5 linked regions of the Homo sapiens genome follow. The protein of the gene in region 2 purifies or fractionates together with the protein of the main gene of each other region. This does not show direct contact. Each region holds a gene or a part of one and is shown on either strand. Other genes may lie near its edges.

Evidence for each region.
Region 1: the proteins of C22orf42 (region 2) and SEPTIN14 purify together in Homo sapiens (affinity purification with mass spectrometry; one large-scale study listed by BioGRID and IntAct). This does not show direct contact.
Region 3: the proteins of C22orf42 (region 2) and CERK purify together in Homo sapiens (affinity purification with mass spectrometry; one large-scale study listed by BioGRID and IntAct). This does not show direct contact.
Region 4: the proteins of C22orf42 (region 2) and GNPTAB purify together in Homo sapiens (affinity purification with mass spectrometry; one large-scale study listed by BioGRID and IntAct). This does not show direct contact.
Region 5: the proteins of C22orf42 (region 2) and WDR44 purify together in Homo sapiens (affinity purification with mass spectrometry; one large-scale study listed by BioGRID and IntAct). This does not show direct contact.

Annotation. Positions count from the first base shown.
Region 1 is NC_000007.14:55,807,249-55,810,767, forward strand, and holds part of SEPTIN14 (septin-14), read right to left. Parts: intron 11-3,519; coding exon 1-10. UniProt on the Homo sapiens protein: Filament-forming cytoskeletal GTPase. Involved in the migration of cortical neurons and the formation of neuron leading processes during embryonic development.
Region 2 is NC_000022.11:32,156,500-32,160,807, forward strand, and holds the start of C22orf42 (uncharacterized protein C22orf42), read right to left. Parts: upstream 2,805-4,308; 5' UTR 2,724-2,804; coding exon of another isoform or gene 2,717-2,723; coding exon 2,485-2,716; intron 1-2,484.
Region 3 is NC_000022.11:46,728,241-46,731,759, forward strand, and holds part of CERK (ceramide kinase), read right to left. Parts: intron 1-3,519. UniProt on the Homo sapiens protein: Catalyzes specifically the phosphorylation of ceramide to form ceramide 1-phosphate.
Region 4 is NC_000012.12:101,747,978-101,750,976, forward strand, and holds part of GNPTAB (N-acetylglucosamine-1-phosphotransferase subunits alpha/beta precursor), read right to left. Parts: intron 1,215-2,999; coding exon 1,124-1,214; intron 1-1,123. UniProt on the Homo sapiens protein: Catalyzes the formation of mannose 6-phosphate (M6P) markers on high mannose type oligosaccharides in the Golgi apparatus.
Region 5 is NC_000023.11:118,352,588-118,356,106, forward strand, and holds part of WDR44 (WD repeat-containing protein 44), read left to right. Parts: intron 1-3,519. UniProt on the Homo sapiens protein: Downstream effector for Rab11 which regulates Rab11 intracellular membrane trafficking functions such as endocytic recycling, intracellular ciliogenesis and protein export.

The sequences.
Region 1 (3,519 bases), on a different chromosome or scaffold from region 2:
TCATTTTCCACTAGTAAAAAAATAATAATGAATCAACAACATTCAGTATCAATCCCTGACAATCAGTAAGTGTTCATGAATGAATACATGAATAAAAAACACATTTAAAATAACACACAACTGAACAATTTGATTAATAGCTATAATTCTTTTAAGCATGTAAGTGTGGTTGTACTATACATACCAACCATAGGCAGAGATTATTTATAGGTTAGCAAATTTGCTTTAAACTTATTACCTGAAGAATAAGCAGGAAATAGTGAAATAATATTTTATGTGCATATATGCCATAGGTTTTTATTAACAATTGTGTAGTATGTTATAAACTACCTCTGGGTATTTTGGAGTGCTAACAGAATATGTAATATAACATCACTAGTGTAAATAATTTTATCAGAGTAAATTCTGCTAGCAAAAAGGCCTTACAATTGAAAATACTTTAGTTACATATTTCCATTTATATATCATATTTAGGAGACACCGTTAGTCAATATTCAAAATCAATCAACAAATTCACATAGCTGTTTTAATGATACATACAGACTGACAGTGAAGACACGGAAAGATATTTCATGCAATTAGAAACTAAAAGAGAAGGCACGGAAAGCTATACTCCTATCACAGAAGATAGACTTTAAGTCAAAAACTGTAAAATGATATAAAGAAGGTCATCATATCATGATGAAGAGGTCAGTTCATTAAAAAAATAACAATTGTAAATATATATGCACCCAATATCACAACTTCTAAATATATAAGGCAAATATTAGCAGACCTGAGGGGGAGATAGACTGTATTACAATAATAGTAAGGGACTTAGATACCCTACTTTCAGCAATGGATAGATTATCCAGACAGAATATCAGTAAGAAAATATCAGATTTAAACTACACTTTAGACCAAATAGACCTAATGGACATATGTGGAATATTTCATCCAACAGCAAAGTAATACCCATTTTTCTCAAACAAACACAAGACATTCTTCAGGATAGATCATATGTTAGGCCACAAAATAAGTCTTAACATATTTTAAAAGACTGAAATAAAAATGTGAGTGCACATGTCTTTTGACAGATCAATTTCATTCCACTAGGGTACATACCCAGTAGTGGTACTGCTGGATCATACAGTAATACTATTTTTAGTTTTTGAGGAACCTTCATATTATTTCCCAAAATGGCTGTACCAACTTAAATTCCCACCAATGATGTTTAAGAATTCCCTTTTTTCTTAGAAATATATATACACTGCTGGTGGGAATATAAATTAGTTCAGCCATTGTGAAAAGTAGTTTGATAATTTCTTTTTTTCTTTTTTTGAGACAGAGTTTCGCTTTTGTCACCCAGGCTGGAGTGCAGCAGTGCGACCTCAGCTCACTGCAACCTCCGCCTCCTGGGTTCAAGTGATTCTCCAACCTCAGCCTCTCAAGTAGCTGGGATTACAGAAGTCCACCACCAGGCCCAGCTAATTTTTGTATTTTTAGTAAAGATGGAGTTTCACCATGTTGACCAAGATGGTTTCGAACTCCTGACCTCAGGTGATCCACTCTCCTCAGCCTCCCAAAGTGCTGGGATTACAGGCATGAGCCACCACGCTCGGCCTGACAATTTCTTAAAGAAGTTAAAACAGAACTACCATTTGACCCAGTAATCCCATTACCAGGTTTATATCCAAAGGAATATATATTGTTCTATCATAAAGACACAGGCACGTGTATGTTCATTGCAGCACTATTCACAATAACAAAGACATAGAATCAATCTAAATGCCCATCAATGGTAGACTGGATAGAGAAAATGAACATATACACTATGGAATACTACACAGCCATAAAAAAAGAACAAGATCGTGTCCTTTGCAGCAACATGAATGGAGCTGAAGCCATTATCCTAAGTGATGTAATGCAGGAACAGAAAACCAAATACCACATACTCTCATTTATAAGTAGGAGATAAATATTGAGAACACATAGACACAAAGGGGAGAACAACAGACACTGGGGCCTCCTTGAGGGTGGAGGGTGGGAGGAGAGTGAGGACAGAAAAGCTACTATGCTTACTTTTTTTTTTTTTTTTTTTTTTGGTTAGTATATGTGCTGCTAAAGTGAGCAATTTTTTTTTTTTGAGATGGAATCTCGCTCTGTTGCTGAGGCTGGAGTGCAATGGCACGATCTCGGCTCACTGCAACCTGCACTTCCTGGGTTCAAGTGATTCTCCTGCTTCAGCCTCTTAAGTAGCTGGGATTACAGGAGCGCGCCACCACACCTGGCTAATTTTTGTATTTTTTAGTAGAGACGGGGTTTTGCCATGTTGGTCAGGCTAGTCTTGAACTCCTGAACTCAGGTGATCCACGTGCCTCAGCCTGCCAAAGTGCTGGGATTACAGACTCAAGCCACTGCTCCAGCCAGTACTATGCTAATTATCTCTGTGATGAAATAATCTTTTACACCAAACCCCCATGACATGCAATTTATCTATATAACAAATTTGCACATGTACCCCTGAACCTAAAATAAAAATTAAAAAAAAAAAAAAAAGAATTCTCTCTTCTCCATATGCTTGCCAGCACTTGTAATGGCTTGTCTTTTTTTTTTTTTTTTTGAGACAGAGTCTCACTCTGTTGCCCAGGCTGGAGTGCAGTGGCGCAATCTCGGCTCACTGCAAGCTCTGCCTCCTGGGTTCACGCCATTCTCCTGCCCCAGCCTCCCAAGTAGCTGGGACTACAGGCGCCCGTCACTACGCCAGGCTGATTTTGTGTATTTTTAGTAGAGACAGGGTTTCACCGCGTTAGCCAGGATGGTCTCCATCTCCTGACCTCGTGATCCACCTGCCTCAGCCTCCCAAAGTGCTGGGATTACAGGTGTGAGCCACTGCGCCCGGCCTGTCTTTTTGATAATAGTCATTCTAAAAGACATGAAGTGATACTTCATCATGTGTTTAATTCGCATTTTCCTGATGTTTTAGAGATGCTATTTTTTTCATATTTCTTTTGCCATTTGTATTTCTTCTTTTGAGAAATGCCTGTTCAGATCCTTTGCCCATTTTTCCTTGTGTTATTTGTTTTCTTGCTATTGAGTTGTTAGAGTAATATCAAAAATATTATATATTTTGGACATTTGCCCCTTATCAGATGTATAAGTTGCAAATATTTTTTCCAATCTCTAGGTTGTATCTTTATGCTATTAAATTGTTTCTTTTGGTTTTGTTGCTGGTGTTTTTGAAGTTCTTTTTTTTTTTTTTTTTGAGGCAGAGTCTTGCTCTGTCACCCAGGCTGGAGTTCAATGGCACGATCTTGGCTCACTGCAACCTCTGCCTCCCGGGTTTAAGCAATTCTCCTGCCTCAGCCTCCCTCCCGAGTAGCTGGGATTACTGGCACCCACCAACATGCCCAGCTAATTTTTGTATTTTTAGTAGAGACAGGGTTTCACCATGTTGGTCAGGCTGGTCTGAAACTCCTGACCTCAGGTGATCACCCGCCTCAGCCTCCCAAAGTGCTGGGATTACAGGTGTGAGTCACT
Region 2 (4,308 bases):
CCCACTGAAGTTAAGGAGAAAACAGTCACAGGTCAGCATCAAGAATTCCCCAGCGTTGTTTTTTTGTTTGTTTTAATAATCACACATTATTCCCCCTGCTTTCTTTCATGTATGTTACCGCATGTTCTCCCTTTTTGCTTTTCTGTGTAACCTATCTTGGGAATCACTCCATAGCAGTAAAATGACATCTTACCCTTGTTTACAGCTCCATAGTTCTCCTTTAGGTGGAAGTACCAGTTAATTTTACTAGTCCCTTACTAGACATTTCAGTTATTTCCAATATTGAGCTATTGAAAATAATGCAACAAGGACTTTGTGCATAGGTTGTTTCATATTTATGGAGTATACCCTCGAGATAAAATGCCTCAAAGTAGGATTTCTGGCTTAAATGCATTTGCAATTGTGACAAATTCCCCTTCGTGGAGTCGAGCCATTTTGCATTTCCACCAGCAATATATGCATGCAACTTTCCTTACAGCCAAACCAAAGAATGTATTGCCACGTTTTTGGAATTCCACTCAGTAGGAGAGACACTGCAGTATAGTTGTCATTTGCCTTTCTCTTATGTGTGAAGATGTGTTTAAGGATCGTTTGCATTTCTTTTTCTGTGACTTCTCTATTTATCACTTTATTACCTACTTTTAGGATCACTTGACTCTAGAGATTCTCAAGTCAGCCTATTTCAGGTCATGATCGTCTGTCTGTTCACTGTTGACTCTCACCTGCACTTCGCCACCAGCCTCCTAGCTGGTCTCCCTGCTTCCACCCTTGCCTGCATTACAGGACATTCTCACACAGCCGCTGGTCAGTCTTCTTCTTGGAGGATTAACAGTAATCCCCAGGCTGTAATCCTCCAGTGGTTTCCCATCTCAACTAAAGTCCATATTCTTTGTCAATGCTCACTACGTGTACAAGGCCTTAGCCCATCATATTCATTTCACTCTGCTGCAGCCACCTTTGTGTCTTTCTGTCCTTTTCCCAAAACAAGTTTGTTCCCATTTCAGGAATTCCAAAGAAGAAATTCCTCTCTGGAAGCCCTCTCCCATCATCCTCACAAGGCTCCGCCTCACTTTTCAATTTATTTTAAAAAACAAATAAGATGGGATCTCTATGTCTATGAAGGTGGGGACCTTCCGTCTTATTTCAAAAAGAAAGGGACATAACAAGAACCAAGAGGCAAAAAACAGTCGTGAGAGTGTAGTCAGAGCTCCTCCTTCCACTACCAGCTACTGAAGGCTGCTGGCCCTGCCCAATGGCTAGTACCCACAAAGCCTCCTATGTCACCTGGTTACCAGGAAACAACCAAGTCAGGCTAGTGGCTCACAATGGCCGACCCCACAGACCCACCCAATGGCTCACACCTCCCTGCTGCTGCCCACCTTGTGGCCACCCTGTCCCTCTGTGGTGACTGCACTATTCGTCCTGGGCTGCCTGAGCTTTCCAGTCCTGAGAAAAGTGCAGGGGGGCGGGGGTTGTTATTGGAAGTCACCCTGGGCAATGAAATCAATAGAAAACCCTGGTTACTAAAGTCAGTTCCATTAGCATCTCTGTTTTTCTGAGTCTGGCAGCTTTCGTTTGCTCACCAAATGTAGTTATACACAAATTTCGGACTGCTTTGTAAGTAAATGCTTCTCTCCTGTCTTACAAGTGTTAGTTTTTGTCTTCAACTTGACCACAGCAACTCCTAGAGCCCTGGTCCCACTCTCGATAAAGCGTGATGACTGCGACTTGAATGAAACCCTAGGACACATCACACTTTCCCTTCCTTGTCTACAATATAGGGACTACACTGTAGTAGGGCTGAAGAGACACTCATGTCAAATTGGGAATTTTAAAGTAATCAGAGCTCCATGACTAAACTCTTTGGGTAAAACCAACACAAAAGCAATTTCTTTACAGCTCTGGCACTAACATTTCATACCTTTTGCAGTCATTTGAAGCATGTCCCCCAATTTTTTTTCCTTCTTTCTTCAAATTACAATTGGAAGAAGTAAAGCAGCTTCTGTCAATGTGACTTAAAACCATCTATTAAGAATACCATATAATCTCTTCCATGGCAAACTCTATTTTGAATTTAAGAAGTCTCCACATATTTGAGTCTAAATTATCCCAATTATTAGCTACCTTAAGGAATGGGAGAAAAGAAACAATTGGGCCCTTAACTGGCTCCTTCACTTAGGTACCAGACCAGCTGGATGGGTAAGGATAGAGAATGGGATGGGGACTCCAAAACTGGAGTATTTGAAATTTTACTGAGAAAAGGGCCGGGACTAGACCAAAAAGTCCTCAACAAAGAAGGCTCAACAACAAAGACAAGAGGCAGAACCAGCCTTTGTCCCCCATGCCTAGCCCTGGGAAAGCCGGCTATGGGCAGGAGGGAGCTGGAAGCTGAGGATGTCTCTGAGGGTGAGGGACTGCAAAGGGGTGGGGGCGGTGGTGGCCAGAGAGATGCCAGAGAGCAAATGGCACCCATGGCTTCTTTACCTTTGGACATCTTCAGCATCTTCGGCGTCTTCGGGAGGCTGAGGTACTGCATGAGTTGGGCCTTCTTAGCTTTCAAATCCAATTTGGCAGGCTTTGCAGTGGTGGATGCTGGTGCTGTGGCTGCCACAGTCTCAGGAATCTCACACTCATGGCAGGGTCCCACATCTGGCCTGCAGCAGTCACAGTTGAGGCCCCCGCTGGGGCCCAGGCAGCAAGTCAGTTTGCTCCCCATTGGGCACCTAAACACACAAAAAAGTCCAAGAGGCACAAGGACAGAATGTAGTCGGAGCTCCTCCTCCTTCTACGGCCAGCTACCGACTGAAGGCTGCTGGCCCTGGCCGTTGCCTAGTAACCACAAAACCTCCTATGTCACCTGGTTGCCAGGAAACAACCAAGTCAGGCTAGTGGCTCACAATGGCCGACCCCACAGACCCACCAAATGCCTCACAATGCCCATCCCTGCTGCTGCCCACCTTGTGGCCACCCTGTCCCTCTGTGGTGACTGCATTATTCATCCTGGGCTGCCTGAGCTTTCCAGTCCTGAGAAAAGTGCAGGGGTTGGAGGTTGTTATTGGAAGTCACCCTGGGCAATGAACTCAATAGAAAACCCTGGTTACTAAAGTCAGTTCCATTAGCATCTCTGTTTTTCTGAGTCTGGCAGCTTTCGTTTGCTCACCAAATGTAGTTATACACAAATTTCGGACTGCTTTGTAAGTAAATGCTTCTCTCCTGTCTTACAAGTGTTACTTTTTGTCTTCAACTTGACCACAGCAACTCCTAGAGCCCTGGTCCCACTCTCGATAAAGCGTGATGACTGCGACTTGAATGAAACCCTAGGACACATCACACTTTCCCTTCATTGTCTATAAAATAGGGACTGAACTCATCCTTCCCAGTTCTGAAATGCTAGGACCTACCAACTCTCTTTTCTCCCTCTGTTTCTTTCTTCCATGGCAGGGATATTCAGATATTTCTTTTACTAACAATGCATAAAGCACGTTTTTCTTACACAAAATTGAAAACCATATAGTGGGATACCACTGTCCTCATTTGATGAAGATGAACAGTAAATATCTGGCAAGCCTGACAGTATTCCAACAGTGGTATACTAATTTAACCCCCAGAAACCATTCCATTTTACGGATTTTGCAGAATCAATCTAGATGGAGAAGTTAAGTAGCTTCCCCAAGTTTCCATGACGGCTCAAGATGGGGCCAGAATTTAATCCTGAGTAATCTTGATCCCCACAAGCCGATCATGATTATCAGAAAGTAAAGGTAGACGTCATGCTTGGAGGGGAAGTGACCTTGTAGATTAGTATTTTTTTTAAAGAATAACAGTTTTTTGATGTGAATTTTAAAATGCCTCCCCTTCATTCAACATTAAGTCTAAGTGCCAATACTGCATGTGTGAAACAGTCCCAACCCTCAGTGAGTTCAGGCAGATGAGCAAACAAAGGCTTAGAGGGTTCAATTATCTGAGGCTACACTGCTGGACAGTGAATCAACCTGGAATGAAAATGCAGATCTATCTGACCCAAAATTAGATGCTGGGGTAGAGTTTGAATTTTATTCTGGAAACGAGAGTCACTGAACCACACAGGGGTGAGGAGTCTCTATCCGATGTGCTTGCAGTGACGTCACTCTGCGCAGTGGAGAGGGCTTTATGAAAGCAGTGGGGCTGATTAAGATACTCTATGTTCATCTGGAGAACAGTAAGGCTAAAAAGGCAGCAGCAGTGACTGAAGTGGAAGGAAAAGTTTTGTGATCATTTGGGAGATAGAACAGGAAGTGCTTGGTGATTAGACGTGGAAGAAGAGGGGAA
Region 3 (3,519 bases), about 15 Mb from region 2:
GTCCAAGGGCTCCAGGGACCGTACGGTGCCTCAGGGAACTTTGTCATGGGAACTGGACTGATTTTGCTCCAGGAACCCCGCTCTTCCCCCCGTGCACCCTGCTATGAAAGGCCACGGGGGCTACTTAAACAAATCCCAGAGTCCCTGCCTTTGAAGAGGGAGCTCACCCCAGATTCTGGAGCAGCCTCGCTCTGAGTCCCCACTCCCCAACCTGTGAGCTCAGCTCTAAGTCCCACATCTCCACCTCTGAGAAGATAACAAGGGGCGTCTCAGAGGGCTATGAGGATCCCATTGGGTGTGAAGCCCGCAGCACTGCAGGGCACAGTACACGCTGGCCTAAATGGAAAGCAGCATTCAGACATCTAGTTCTGGCCAGAATGAACCAAGCCCGACCGCCTGTCTCTCCCACCCGCTATGACTGATAGCTCTGGACAAGATACAAGAAACAGGCAGTGAACCGGGGACACCAGAGATCCACAGCAGCAGGCCCGCTGGCTGGAGAGGCCAGCGTGCAGAGTCAGCAGCTGGGAGCTGGGTTTATCTCCAGCTCTGGCCTCGGGGACGTCTGAGCTATGGGGCAGCAGGGTGGGTGCAGGCCCCTGTCCCAGAGAAGCCAGGGTGTGCTGAGGGCAGAGGGGTGCTCAGAGGAGAGGGGGCTGGAGCAGGAATACTTGGCTCTGAGAATGACCAGATGAGTCCAGCCTCACTCCTGAGGGGCCAAAACAGGGCAGCCAGGGCCTCGGAGGCTGGACAGCCAGGGCCCACCTCCCTCGCCACATGAGACAGACCTGCCATCTGTACCCAGCCAGGCTGAGCACCTGCTTTTGAAAAAGAAAAATTGGCTGGGTCTGGTGTCTCATGCCTGTAATTCCAGCACTTTGGGAGGCTGAAGCGGGAGGACTGCTTGAGGCCAGAAGATTGAGACCAACCTGGACAACATAGTGAGGCCCTGTCTCTACAAAATAAATTTTAAAAATTAGGGAGAATGATGGTACATGCCTGTAGTTCCAGCTACTTGAGAGGCTGAGGTAGGAGGACGGCTTGTGCTCAAGAGGCTGCAGTGAGCCAAAACTGAGCCACTGCACTCCAGCCTGGGAAACAGTGAGACTGTAAATAAATAAATTAATTAATTTAATTAAATAGAAAAATTGTCCAAATGACTTTATTTTTTATTAATTTTTTTTAAGAGACAGGGTCTTGCTCTGTCACTCAGGATGGAGTACAGTGGTACAATCATGGAACACCGTAACCTCGAATTCCTGGTGTCAAATGCTCCTCCTGCCCCAGCCTCCTGAGTAGCTGGGACTACAGGCATGCACAACACCCAGCCTCCAAAAAACATTAACAGGACTTGGCCTTACAAAATAATGTACCAAATATCCAGGAAACAACCCACAATAAATCAGCACACCAAGAACCAGGAAATGTTAACGTTCTCAAGGGAATAATCAAAAGACGTCAAACCTGAGATGACCCAGATGTTGATGTTATCAGACAAAGACTTCAAAGTAGTCTTTGGCCAGGCGCGGTGGCTCATGCCTGTAATCCCAGCATTTTGGGAGGCCGAGGCAGGTGAATCACGAGGGCAGGAGATCGAGACCATCCTGGCTAACACGGTGAAACCCTGTCCCTACTAAAAATACAAAAAATTAGCCAGGCGTGGTGGCAGGCGCCTGTAGTCCCAGCTACTCAGGAGGCTGAGGCAGGAGAATGGCGTGAACCTGGGAGGCGGAGCTTGCAGTGAGCCAAGATCGCACCACTGCACTCCAGCCTGGGTGACAGATCGAGACTCCATCTCAAAACAAACAAACAAACAAACAAACAAAAAACAAAGCAGCTGTTATAACCATGCTCACTGAGACACAGTTGAACATACTTGAAGTTTTCAGGAAAGAGGCTGGGAGTGGTGGCTCACGCCTGTAATCCTAGCACTTTGGGAGGCCAAGGCGGGCAGATTGCCTGAGCTCAGGAGTTCAAGACCAGCCTGGGTAACATGGCAAATCCCTGTCTCTACTAAAAAAAAAAAAAAAAATAGCCAGGCATGGTGGCAGGCACCTGTAATCCCAGCTACTCAGAAGGCTGAGGCACGAGAACTGCTTGAACCCAGGAGGTGGAGTTTGCAGTGAGTCGAGATCACACCATTACACTCCAGTCTGGGTAACAGAGTGACAGTCTATCTCAAAAAAAAAAGAAGTTTTCAGGAAAGAAATGGAAACTATTGGAACCAAAAGGAAAAATTTAAAACTGGAAAGTACAGTATCTGAAATTTAAAAATCACCAGATAGGCTTAGCAGCAGAATGAATTAGATAGAGGAATAGTGAAGTTGAAAATAGGTCAGCAGAAAGAATCTATTCTAAAGAGCAGAGAGAAAGAAATTGTTTTAATGCACAAGCACCTTCTGCTTCTGGGAGGATGGATTAGCTGTGCTTTTCCTACTCCTCCTATTAAGTGAAGCCCTGGACGTCACACATGAAACAAATATAAGAAGACTCTGACAGGCAGAGAAAAGGCAGCTGTTCAGGGCCTGGGATCTGAGAAAGACACACGGCATCCCCCTGGGGGTTTCCTTTGCCTCGTCTATCTTGGATTTGGAACTGGAGCAGCCTGAAACCTGGAAATGCCAACAGGTACAAACGCAGAGCCCCAGTGAAAGCCAACTCAGTCTAGCCAGGGAAGGGGCAGCTTTGCAAGACAGAAAACTTTGAGACAATAACAACCTACCCCAGAAAAAAACGGGCCCAGCCCTCCAACCAAGCCCAAGTGGCCAACTAGCAGCTTAGACTTCCACCCTTGAGAGGCTGTGAGCAGGCACCCCACAACCTCTGCCAGGGCTGTACAGGGGAGGCCACGCAGGAAGCTGGAACCCCCATCAGCGCCAGCTGGTAAAAAGCCTCATGCCCACTAGGCATTGGTGGAGACAAAGGGGCAGCCCAGCCCGGGCCCCCACCCTGCACTGGCGAGGTGCCCCTTCCTCCTTGCTGGAGTGGAGTAAGAGGAGGCCTGGTGGGGAGACAGGGCTTTCACTGCCACTGAGCTGCAAGGTGCCCACACTCCACCCACGTGCTGTTAGGGGAGTGCATGTGGGGAGCGGCAAGGAAGCACCTCCACCCCCCGCCAAGGTGGCCTTAGCAGAGGCCTGGCGGGAGCTGTACCCCCCACCCACCCGGCAATGACAAGCAGCCCCTGACTCCGCTGCCAACAAGGCTGAGGGGAACCTGGGCTTCCACCCCCACCTGGCAGTACCAGCGCCGTTCCCTGCTGGAGCAGTGCCAGAGAAACCAGCTAAACAGAAGGTGTAAACGCTGCCCAGTCTTGGAACATACTGCAAAATAACCAGTGCTAGGTGAGTCTGGGAAGGAGGGCTGGGCCTTGGTGAGGCTGAGGATAGAGGAAAACATGTCAGGCAGGGAGGGCAGAGGGCACCTGGGGAGGCACAGGGCATGCGGGAGATAATGACGGCTGGGCTGGTGAGCACGTGTGCCCCGGGAGCAGGTGGGGGCAGGGCCAGATCGGGGGAG
Region 4 (2,999 bases), on a different chromosome or scaffold from region 2:
TTCCATTAATGGCTGCTCCTTTGAGTCAGGGCTCCTTTCCTTCCCCATCCTAGGTCAGCACAGCAGACTCAAAGGTTTCTCACTGGACCCTGTTCTAAAAGCAGGTACAGCCTTTCTGAGATTTTTCATAAGACTTTTACCTGCCAGGAACAATGGTAACAGACATCAAGAACAAGATGTACAATCCCTGGAAAGCAGATGAAGGTTAAGTTGCTGTCCTGTTCACCTGCCCAGTCTCTGTTTCCTGAATTTCCTTCCATTTACAGCAAGAAGCCCATTCATTTATCCTGAAGCTCTCAGTACTTAGGTGCTTGTCCTTCTTGGTATAAGTCAACTTGGTGTACGTTTCATTTGAGTGACAGCTAGAAAAGCTCCACTCAATAGTCACCTTGATTGGAGGCAGAGGCCAAGTCACTTGCCACACCCAAGTCAGGTTGGTAAAGATGCCCATTCCCCTCCTTCAATCCTTTTTCTTCAGAGTATTTGATATGTGAATAGCCTAATGAGGACTCTCTTATCCCTTTCTCTTTACCTCACAAATCTCCCTCCGACTTCTGGACACTCACCTCAAGGAGGCTGCGTGTGTACATGCATGCAGAGGAAAGCCCAGGTGTAGAGGGGCTGACAAGGAGAGGAGGAAGGAGGAGAGAGGAGGGAGAACTCCTAGCGATTGAAAGAAAGATAAATGGGAGCTACTGGTGTGAGTGGGACAACACAACGGAACCGTGGGATGTCTGAAGACACTGTGCTCACTCAAGGAAGCGTGAAAGAGAGGAAGAAAATTGGAGACCCATAGAAAATTAACATTAGATAAGGATTCTAGATGGTTTTTTGGTTATAAATACTTAGAGCTACTTGGTTTTAGCCTGATATCTACAAGTTAATCTGTTGAGTTCCAGATAAAAAGAATACTGGTAATGGATTTAGAAGAGAAATGAATAAAAGACTGTTATATTTGCTGCCTGAATATTGTGAAACATATTTAACATATTCACATATGAGCTATAAGACAATAAGAGAAGTTAAAATTTTGATTGTAAATGTGTATCATTTTCTAAAACATTCAGATGCTAGTATACCAAGAAATACCATTTAATACCCACATAAAATATATAAAACTTACCTGCTCAGCAAAAAATGAGAATATAGTAAACATAATCAATGTTGCTAGTACACAATGGGTCCAAAACTTCAATTTGTCTCGATAAGCCCTCCTGTGCAGAGAGAAGAAAGCAACTATGTACTTCTGTATATGGTTTCACTACCATTAGTTAAGCATTATTTATATACTAGTTCTATAAAAACAATGTTGGGAAACACAAAAACATTGTCTTGCAATTCTAAAATGCTCACACAATATACATTTCCAACACGAGTTCAGATTTTTTATTATGTCATAGTAAATATTATACTTGAATTAGTGAAGTTATCCAGGCAGGAGAGAGGACTTCAAAAGAAAATTACTTCTGGCACTTAAACAAAACCACTCTTTCATTCATTTTTATTCACTCATACTTATTTATTCACTCAGTTTCTTGATAAATACTTCCTGCGTATATGGAGAGATGAACAAGATGAAGTCCCTGCTTTTAAGTGTTTAGAAAACTGAGGCGTTGCTGACATGCTGACTGATGACTTGCCATCACATAAGACACAGAAATATGCATTATCAAAAGCAAAGTCATGTGAAAAACTTAGAGAAATGAGGACAGTGCCACAGAGATGGTGGCATTTCCTGTAAGCCTTGAAGGGGACAGGAAGCATATGGATGAGAAAGAGAAGGAGCAGTAGAGTGGCACGGTGGCCAGCTGGGCCCTACAGGACTGAGTGGAGTGAATCCATGCGGCAGCATGGGGGGAACTAAGCCAGGTGAAGGCGAGAGGGTATGAACTGCAGCTGCTTTGCAAAACCACACCGTGGGGTCTGGACAGAACACTCTAGTGGGAAAGTGGATGAAACAGACAGGTGGGGGTATGTGTGACATAATCAGGGTAAACATGTTGGCCATTTGAAGGATGGACAAACAAGGAAGGCAGGCAGTTTAGTTTTAGTCCAGGCATGAAAGGAAGCAGTGACAATGAAAAGAAATAAGCAACAGAAGAGACATTCCTGAGGTAGAATCAACTGGACCTGGAGCCAAGAGAATACTGAGGATAAAAAGAGGCAGTACAGCCATTTCCTCATCTGTAATTTGGAAATAATGAACAATTGGTTACGAAGATTAAATAAAAATGCTTACCATAGGTTTGGAAGATATGCTAGTAACTACCAAACTCTGGCCTCTGTGCTGAGTTACAGATTCTCATTTTCCACTGTTTGGGCGTCTCTACCTCAAGTCACACATCCAAAACGGCACTCGCCCACACACAGCTCTTCCCCCTGTATTTCCCACTTCTGTTAATAGGATCATAACCAGCTCTGTCAACTAATGTCTAGTGTCAGTGCAGTGAGAGACAATGCAGAACTAAGCAGGATGAGGAGCAAGCAACCTCCAGGGCAGGGGAATGACTGCAAGAGCACCCACACCTGATTCACACCATTTGTACAGCACAGAAATCAAGGTCCTCTCAAATTACTTTTAAGCCCACTTCTTTCTTATTCAAATGGACCCTTGAGGGTAAATTTAGTCACAAATTGAATTTGGGGAGTTAACACTTAGAACCACCTAAAGATCTTTTTCCTCTGAGTTAAGGGAAAGTGAAAACGGTGAGAAGCCATTCCTTGCCATTTCTGGGAGACAAGACCCATGATTCAGTAATAACTTCTCCTTATGAAAATAAAAACATAAAGATAGCAGCAATATTCATCCTAATTGTCTCATTTGCCCAACTCCAAGATACCGAGGAGTTCTAGTGCCAGGGTCTGCCAATTTCCCTTTTAAAGTGTCTCCCAGTTCGTCTATTGCTTTTTCTTTATTGCCTAGGCTGTATCCTTGGTTCACACCTGACTGACTGTTTCTAGGACTAGTGAAATGCTTATATACTTGTCTCCCTGCCTCC
Region 5 (3,519 bases), on a different chromosome or scaffold from region 2:
TTAGACTTACTGTCTAACCTTTACATTACCCAACACTCCATGTGTTTGTACTCTTAAGTTCATTGTTAAGACTTTGACAGAATCAGGTGAATTTGCCAGGCAAGCACCTTTAAGAGGCTGCTTGTTTCCTCCTCATACTCTGCAATTTTGTTAGTTACTTCCTGGGGTAGTAGTGGAGGTGGAGGAAGGGAGTATAAAGAGATCATGCAGGTTGTGGTGATGGAGGTGGAAGAGGTAAAGGTAGCCCCAGCAGTAGGTATAGAGACCAAGTTACAGTGCTGCTTCCTGGGGCATGGATAACTGAGATAAGACAAATCCCATCATTTTGATACACATGTTCACAGCATGAATTAAATAACCCCTTCTCTAAGAGATTAATAACCTATAAGAAATACCTCAAATCAAAGTTAAAGTAACAAAAATTGTAGGTACTTTATGATGTCCTACTGATATTTAGCTTGAATTGATAAATAACCTATGTTTCTCATTTCTATCCATAGTTAGGCTAATATCTACAAACTTTCACAAGGACTGTTCCCCTCTCACTGTTGGATATTATTCAGCTAACCAGCTAAACCTTTAATAGGGTGCTTTCCTTACTCTTCAGAGTGAAACTCTTTCTATTCCCTTATTTCAAACTCAGCAGTGTTTGTGTTAGTCTGTCATCTCATGATTCAAAACCGAGGAAAAAGCACCTACGACATAATGTGGGCCTCATACCTGATGGCAACCCTGATGTTTTTCCTCAGTCAGTATACAAATTTATCTTGGTTACTATAGCAACCAGTCTATCAGTTATTCTTCTAGCTCTTTTGCCTTCTCTCAGATACTAGGATTACCATATAATCAGGTTCTGCCAGAGCGCTTCAGGTCTTAGAGTTCTATTACCAGCTGCAACTGTCTGGCAGTTCACAGTTTGGCATTCCATCAGAGTCAGTTGTTTTTTAAGTCCACAAAACCTTTTTGTCTCCAAACCTTTTTAAACATTTTAAACATATATAATTTAACAAAAACATGTTTAGGCAGCAATTTCCTCATACTAATTTTCTCAATCCAGTGTTAGTCATTGCCCTGAAGATTGAATGCATTGCATCACTGCATCCAATAGCCATCCCTTTATAATAACAAGTAGAATCAATTTCCAGATCGAGGGTGACCATTTAGGAAATATATTTGCAAATGTGATTTTAGACTCAGTATCATCACAAACTAGCTAAAATGACTTAAAAGCATCTTGATCATCAGCAGCTACCAAATAATCCAGCTTTTAACAAAAATGATTTCTATAGGTTGTAGAAAGAATGTTTGGCCTTTAGATTAATTCATTTTAATTTGAGAAAACTGTTTAGAAAACTAATAGGAAGTGTTATCTTTTGTAGCCCTTGAATAAACAGGAAGAGAACAGTAAAGACTGAATAGTTGTATGGGTCTTTTTTTTTATATTTATTTGACATACTTTTTTAACTCTTAAAAATCTCAGAATTCATGTAACTAAAATAGTTTTAAATTATAAATATGTTTACCTGTTTTGGTCAAAACAAGGATTGGCCAGGTACAGAAGCTCATGCCTGTAATCCCAGTGCCATGAGAGGCTGAGGTGGAGGGATCACTTGAAGCCAGGAGTTTGAGACCAGCCTGGGCAATGTAGCAAGACCTCATCTCTACAAAAAGTTTTTAAAAATTAGTTGGACATGATGGTGCATGCCTATAGTTCTAGCTATTTGGGAGATTGGGGCAGGAGGATTGCTTGGGCCCAGGAGGTCGAGGGTGCAGTGAGCTATGGTCACGCCACTGTACTCTGGCCTGGGCGATGGAGCCAGACTCTGTCTCTTAAAAAAAAAAAAAAACTATAGTTAAATTATGATAATGCTTCAAGGAAATCTTTAATTGTACAAATAGACTTAAGACTGGTTTCACTTTCTCCACAGAGTCCTGATCTTTAAAATTTTTCAAAGGGGGAGTCAGGTTTTTAAAAAATCTGAGGATGAAATATAAGATTTTTTGAAACTTCTGAGGGAAAACTTGAATGGTATTTTTTTTTATTATACTTTAAGTTCTGGGGTACATGTGCAGAACATGCAGTTTTGTTACATAGGTATACACTGAATGGTATTTTCTAATAGGTATCCTATACAGAACAAGCCATACCTGTAACAAGCTATCTATATCTGTATAAAACCTACTTGGCCACTACTAATTGTAATAGACTATTCCAGTACAAAACTCATTGAACCATGGGCATTCTTATGAACCACAGATCAAACTTTCTAGAGAACCTATAAATAGTATGTAGTGCTGTATGCAAACTCACTGTCCCAGGAGCAAGCATCCTGATTACTAAGCAAGCTCAAGAGAAGAGGTGGGAGTATTCTTTCTGACATTGTTCTTGAACTGGTAAGAATAGCTGTGGATGAACTTAATATCCATAGTCCTCTTTTAATTCTGTGCCTGAAAGTATTTATTGAAATTGGAAGACTAAGGGAATCATCTTTCTGGTTATTAGCAGTACTGTTAACAATTGAATTTTTTTTTTAAATCTGTCTTTTAAAATATATTACCTATCCATGCCAAACTAAAATGGCAGGTGGATTGAACATTTCACTCAGCCCCAACTCCACCCCTTTCACTGCCAGCTTTTTCTTTCCTAGCATAGTCAATGTCATTAGTACAGAGATTTCCTAGTATAACTACTTCTTGTCCCTTAAAACTGAGAAGGGTCAGTGATGGAAGAAATATAAAGGGTGGGAACTTTTGGAAGGAGTAAGGGAAAAATTGGTTGCATTGGATATGGTGGACAAGTTGGTAAAGACTTTAGTGTTACAGGTGGTGCTTAGTCATTGGATTAGTGAAAGATGGGTGAGCAGAATGAACAAGTAGCTTGATAAAACTAGTAGCTTTGTGAGTGAAAGCAAGTAGATTTGTCTGTATTTTGCAATGGGTATTTTATCTTTATTAGCTTGGCTTAAGGGTTAAGGTTAATGATTGAGATCAGTCCTTTTTCCTTTAAGTGCACCTTACTGTGCCTATTATGTCCCAGATCATAGCCCTTAGCTGTTGACTTTTAACCTTTGCCTTATTTCCCAGCATAGTCCACAGTTATGTCTAGCAGTGCACACAAGGTTTAGTTGGGGAGGCGGGTGGTGAGTAAGCATGCTCTGTGGTATCTACTGCGCTTCACAATTGGTTCTGATTTTGAACTTCCTGGTTCTCTCCAATCTCCAGTCACCCTTAAACACACACAGGTACCAGTTCCTATAAGAGGAGGTAGGTAAGGGAGCTGAGGCAAAGAGAGTGCTTTGGATGTATAGGATCTTCATAACTTGAGGACATCCTATACCCAGTAAATATTAAATGTTAACAGTAAAACCTTGGGTGGTGTTGCCAGTTATCCTGCATTCCTATCAGTTCCTTGTTACCAACTTTTTTTTCAGGAATGAATGTGTTCACAGTAAGAAAGAAATATTATAGTGCTACATGTTACATGCAAAGAACGATAACACCATAACACCATAATGCTAA